2 separate regions of the Homo sapiens genome follow, and region 2 is linked to region 1. The links come from fine-mapping of genetic effects on gene expression. A gene starts in region 1. The other region holds a variant in brackets. All regions are shown on one strand. Distances are from middle to middle.

What was found. PIP is the estimated chance that this variant, and not a neighbour inherited with it, causes the effect.
Region 2: its variant is the best candidate, but not a certain one, in a credible set for the expression of EXOC1-AS1 in monocytes after R848 (Quach 2016, PIP 0.79).

What each region holds. Positions count from the first base shown.
Region 1 is chr4:55,946,588-55,949,500 of GRCh38, forward strand. It overlaps EXOC1-AS1 (EXOC1 antisense RNA 1), which reads right to left and starts at 1,425. Exons shown (of 5, transcript XR_941069.4): 1 at 1,253-1,425. CEP135 (centrosomal protein 135) reads left to right here and starts at 2,358. Exons shown (of 26, transcript NM_025009.5): 1 at 2,358-2,472. RefSeq lists enhancers at 1,167-1,316, 1,935-2,899 and silencers at 2,114-2,253, 2,304-2,763.
Region 2 is chr4:55,968,222-55,971,134 of GRCh38, forward strand. It overlaps CEP135 (centrosomal protein 135), which reads left to right. Exons shown (of 26, transcript NM_025009.5): 9 at 842-907. LOC124900705 (a long non-coding RNA gene) reads right to left here. Exons shown (of 3, transcript XR_007058124.1): 2 at 2,552-2,659. Among named protein-coding and RNA genes, the nearest start is that of CEP135, 21 kb to the left of the region's middle. The variant TA/T (reference allele first, on the strand shown) is at 1,207.

The DNA of each region.
Region 1 (2,913 bases):
TTGGCCCTAATCTTCAGGCTGATGCTAATCCTTGGGCTCCCCACAGTCAGTTACCTGTTGTCCTGGCCCTTTGGGTTGGGGGGAGATCTCTAATTGGTCAAAACATGATATCCCAACACAAATGAAGAAAAGAAAAAAAAAATAAAACAAGCAGCAAGGCTGGGCACGGTGGCTGGCTGGGCATGGTGGCTCATGCCTGTAATACCAGGACTTCGGGAGGCCGAGGTGGGCGGATCACCTGAGGTCAGGAGTTCGAGACCACCCTGGCCAACATGGTGAAACTCTGTCTCTACTAAAAATACAAAAATTAGCCGGGCATGGTGGTGGGTGCCTGTAATCCCAGCTACTCAGGAGGCTGAGGCAGGAGAATTGCTTGATCCCGGGAGGTGAAGGTTGCAGTGAGCCGAGATCATGCCACTGCACTCCAGCCTGGGTGACAGAGCAAGACTCCATCTCAAAACAAAAACAAAAACAAAAACAAAAACAAAAACAAAAAAACAAGCAGCAAATAATGTAATAATTATAGCCACACAAACATGCACCTCACTGTTGCAGGGATTGATCTTGTACCCCGTGGGACCCATCTGTTCCATTCCCCAATCAGGTTATCCTGTCACGTTGAGGCAGGAATTTAAAGAAAGTTTTGTACTGCATTTACTCACTCTAAGGATAGTAACAAGCAAGGCTATAGGAAGGTCATGGTGACCTAGTCTAAGAAGCCAGGAATGAGCTCCAAACACCCCTGAGCAATGGTTAAGAAAAACAAATTCCTTTACTGTTTCTCTTTCCTTAGACCATTAATTATGATTATTTTTGCCTATGTTTAGAAAGATTTGTAGGTTCCTGTTTTTCTTTTGACGCAGCTGCAAGGCCACCAGCTAAGCAAAGCCAAAAGTTATGCAAATTTCAGCAGTTATGCTATAGATTACAAAACCTGTCACTGTGTGATTTACTGCCTTGGTTCTGCTTTTTTAATTTAGCCTATATAAGCCAAGCTCTGTCTTTGTTCAGGGCTCAGCTTTTTGGATGCAAATCCACGGAGCCAGTGCACACCTTAATAAAATCCTCCTGCTCCACCCATTGGTCTTTCTGGTCCTCTGCTTTCCCGCAACAATGGGAGTCTTCAAGCGGCCAGTGCCTTTTTCGTTCTTAACTGCCCAATCCGTGCCAGCAGAAGGCAGCTTTAAACCAAAGTGAAAGAGCTGAAGCAAAAAAGAAAGAAAATAAAAAGTCCCAGTTCTTCTGGGCTTACCTCCTGGCTGGCTCACCAAAATATGTTACCAGATTGGAAGTTGGGAGTTCCAGGTTCTTGGTGTTATGAACAAAGAATTGGATGAGACACACAAATAACCACCCCACAAGATTTATTAAGCAAAGAATATACCAGAGAGAGGAACGGGCTTATCTTCAAGTGGTGTCAGCCCTGGATTAATATAGCCTTTGTTCTTTTATACCCACTTCCTACACTTCTTTAACTCTAGGGAGGGGATTTCCTATAATTGTCATATCTGTTTTCTTGTTTTTTCTCTCTTAGTGCGCCTGCGTGAGCTTGCCATAATTTTAAGTGTATGTATGATAGGCATTCCATAGGTATGAGCTGGTCAGTCTTCTGACTTCCTTCCCTATTCTGCTGCCTCAGAAGGCCTATTTGGGAGAAAAGTAAACAGGAAAGAATGAAACTCCCTCTGACTGTCTGGGAAATTTTCAGGGGAGAAATGGAATTCTAGGATTTTACTATGTGTTTTCCATCTGTGAGTGGACTATAACGGTTTATTTCAATTTAATTCCACTCACAAATGTTTTGCTGAGTAGAATAGTCTCTGACTCAAGGAATTCACATTTGGGGGCGGCAGAGAGAGACGGATCAACAAATGATTGTATTTTGATGGATGAATTCTATGGTTCTACAGAGAGCCTGCGGGAGATACTATTGTGGGATAATTAATTGCATTGGGTGGTTGTCAGGGAAAGTTGCAGAGACAACGTGATATCTGCGTTTGGGGATTACGTGGTGAGCAGGCGTTCACCTTGCAGGTGAAGGCTACTCCGCTGCAGGGACCGGTACTGGGGCGGCGTTTGTTCCCCGCACGCAGTAGGTGATCCACACCTCCCGCCGACAGGAGGAAGAGGATGCCAGCTCAGGCACCAGCTGAGGTTTGGCATTTGCTGGCCGCGGGCGCCGACCTCCAGGGGGCGCCGTGGCCTCGCGCTGTCCGGGCCGTTGCATTTCCGGGCACTGGGGCTCCGCCATCGTCGCCAAGCGCGTCCCCGCCGCGAGCCGCTAATCGTCCGCCGCTCCCGTTACCGGGGCAACCGCGGCGCCTCCTCCGTGTCGGCCCCGATCGTCCCTCCGCGCCATTTTCAAACTGCTCTAGCGCCGGAGCCCGTGCCTGGACGGAAGGAGCTAGTGGGGGACTCGAGGCCTGAGGGCAATGCGGCTGGAGGCGGAGGCAACGGCGGCTGGAGCTGCCGGTGAGTCCGGATGTGGGAGCCAGAGGGCCAGCTGCGGCGGTGGTGGCGCCTTCGCCTTCTGGGCGGTACCCGCGGGCCGGGCTCGGGCACTGCCGGGAGGCCGCGCGGCCGCGGGAGGAAGTGAGGCCAGGCCGGGTCAGACCGGGCGGGGAGGGGCGCGGGGACTCTTCCCACCCACCCCGCTCCCACACCCCCTTCCCGTCAACACCCGACGGTAAAGTTGCAAACCGGAGATTGGGTGGAGGAGAGCTTGGGCCGACTCGTCAAGGAGCGTCTGTGTGGGCCGTGCAGACAGGCTTGCTGTTGACCAATGGATAGATTTAAACATTAAAATGCCTTCTCAGTGTAGCAGTCATCCATGCTCTTTGTAACAAAAATGTCGCAAAGCGTAGGACGACAGCCTTTAATTAACCTTTGCCCAGCTCCTTTGAAGCCTCTCCA
Region 2 (2,913 bases), 22 kb after region 1:
ACACTTGAAAAACTATACAGCATTGCTAAAGAAGTTAAAGAAGACACAAATAAATGGAAAGACATTCCGTGTCCGTGGATTGGAAGACCCAATATTGTTAAAGTGTCCATACAACTCAAATTCAGCGCATTCCCTATCAAAATCCCAGTGGTGTTTTTTTTTTTTTTTTGCAAAAATAGAAGAAACTTCTAAAATGCATATGGAATCTCCAAGGACCCCAGACCACCAACACAATCTTGAAAAAGGATATAATGAGTACAGTTTTAATTCTGTTTTTGTGGTTTTAGTTTCATTACAACACTCCTATATCTCATCCCTCTCTTTTTCCACCACCTTTTGCATCTTCTATCCTTGTGCACACAGCATGCTAAACACAGCTTCCCATGTCCCATTGCAAATGCTCAGAAATGACAAGTTGGCTCAACAAAATGTTCCTATTGGGTCATAATATTTTGATCTTGGCATTCTGTTCTCTCAGTTGCAGTATAGAGAGGATCCAGGTTGGTAAAAGCAGGTATGGAGAAAGCAAATAGGATAGGAAAATCAGGAAATGACAGTGCCATAGAATTACCCCAAAATTTAAGGCCCAAGGAAGATCCTACAAGATGCTCAAGTGGCCTTCTTCAGATGTTACAAGTAGGCTCCTGTAAACATTCGGGATACCAAAAGATTAAAGAGAAGCCTCAATTTTGCCTCTTCGTTGAAATTGATAGGGATAAAGCCTCAGATCTCACTGGTAAGAGGGAACGTGAAGTAATTGCAAAATTACTTGATCTATTTGCATATGACTTAAGTATTCTTAGACTTTTAAGTATATACCTAATAGGCTTTTTATTCCTAGAAAGAGATTAAAAGAAAGCTCTCTGAAATGCAGGATCTTGAAGAAACAATGGCAAAACTTCAGCTGGTAAGTTGATGTCATGTTGAATTGCCAGCATTTTCAGTAAGAAAATTTTTATGGGAGACTGAGGTGGGTTTATCACCTGAGGTCAGGAGTTCGAGACCATCCAGCCACATCAACATGGCGAAACCCCGTCTCTACTAAAAATACAAAAATTAGCTGGGAGTGGTGGCGCATGCCTGTAATCCCTGCTACTTGGGAGGCTGAGGCAGGAGAATTGCTTGAACCTGGGAGGCAGAGGTTGCAGTGAGCCGAGGTCACACCATTGCACTCCAGCCTGGGCAACAAGAGCGAAACTCCATCTT[TA/T]AAAAAAAAAAAAAAAAAAAGAAAAGAAAATTTGTATGCTTTGTTTTATTGCTCAGCTCCTGACAACCACTAATCTACTTTCTGTTTCTGTAGATTTATCTATTCTGGCCATTCCATATAAAGGGAATCATATATTTTGTGTCTGGATTCTTTTACTAAGCATAATATTTACAAGGTTCATGCATGTGGTAGCATTTATGAGTACTTCATTCCTTCTTATGGCTGAGTAATATTCCACTGCATGGACATGCAAGTTTATATTTTTATAATTCCTTAATTTTATGTATAGTAGGTAGCTGCTAGAAATTTTACATTCTTTTAACTACTTTATGATTTGTTAGTTGACTAATATTAAAACCAGGAGTTAATTACTTGAAATATTTGTTGATTAACTTGAAATATTTGTTGATTATTACAAAAGGCACTCCATCCTCTTTTATTTATTTATTTATTTATTTTTTGGAGACAGGGGCTTGCCTTGTCACCTAGACTGGAGTGTAATGGCATGATCATAGCTCCCTGCAGCCTTGAACCCCTGGTGCTCAAGTGATCCTCCCACCTCAGCCTTCTGTGTGGTTAAGACTGCAGGCATGTGCCACCGTGCCTAGCTTTTTTTTTTTTTTAGTAGAAATGAGGTCTTACTATGTTACCCAGGATGGTCTCAAACTCCTGGACTCAAGTGATTCTCCCGCCCCGGCCTCCTAAAGTGCTAGGACTACAGGCATGAGCCACTGTGCCCAGCCCAGTCCTCTTTTAATAGCTTTGTTTGGTAATACAAACCATTTTCCTAGTCACATTTCTTGTTCTGGTAGTCTTCAAATAACAAAGGAAGTAATCATCCCAACAGAAGCCTAAATGTAGCATACAGAAAAAGCATATAGTCCTATAGTCTGCAACTAGCAGAAAGAGTGTCTTGCTTATAAGGTAGAAACTGGGTAGTCACCCAAATGATTGAGGATTTTAAAAAAATAACCTGTTGAATTGGAAGAGTTTTCTCTAAGATTGGAAATAAAGGTAAATACTAATTTCCAAGTTCTTTCATTATGTATACTTTTTATACAGTCTAGCTGCAGTGTCCTGGTGGCATAAGTCAATTAAAAAGGAAGCATGAGAGCAAGGGATTTTTGCTGTTTGTTCACTGCTAGTTGTATGTGCACTAAATGTTGGATGTGATTCATAATACTTGTCTCAGAACTGTGACCAAGTTTTAGTAGTGTTGGCTTACAGTAAGATGTTGCCGTAGTTACTTTCTTACCTTTCTTATTTTTTCTAGTAATGCAAAATTCTATGTATTTTTGAGATAAGAATGATAATATTGATAGCTAACATTTTTTAAGTACTTACCGTGGTGGACATGTTGGATACCATGGAAAGTACTTCATAACCATAGATTCATCCTCGCCAGTAAATCCTTAGTGTCCTGGTCTTATTATCCTTGTTGTGCATATGAGGCTGAGAGAATAACCAGTATAGTTATAGATACACTGTGTGTGGTGATCTTAGAAGAATTTATCTTACTACTGCTCTCTTAAACATGAAAAAGCTTTAAATTTTTTAATCATATAAGTATATATTCATTTAGAAAAAAATAAGACAATATGCTAAACTAACTAGAAGAAAATAATTCTCCCACCCTCAAAGAAGCATTGTTGATATTTGTGTTTTCAGCCACAAATGATAATTAAGTTTAATTGAAACCTTATATT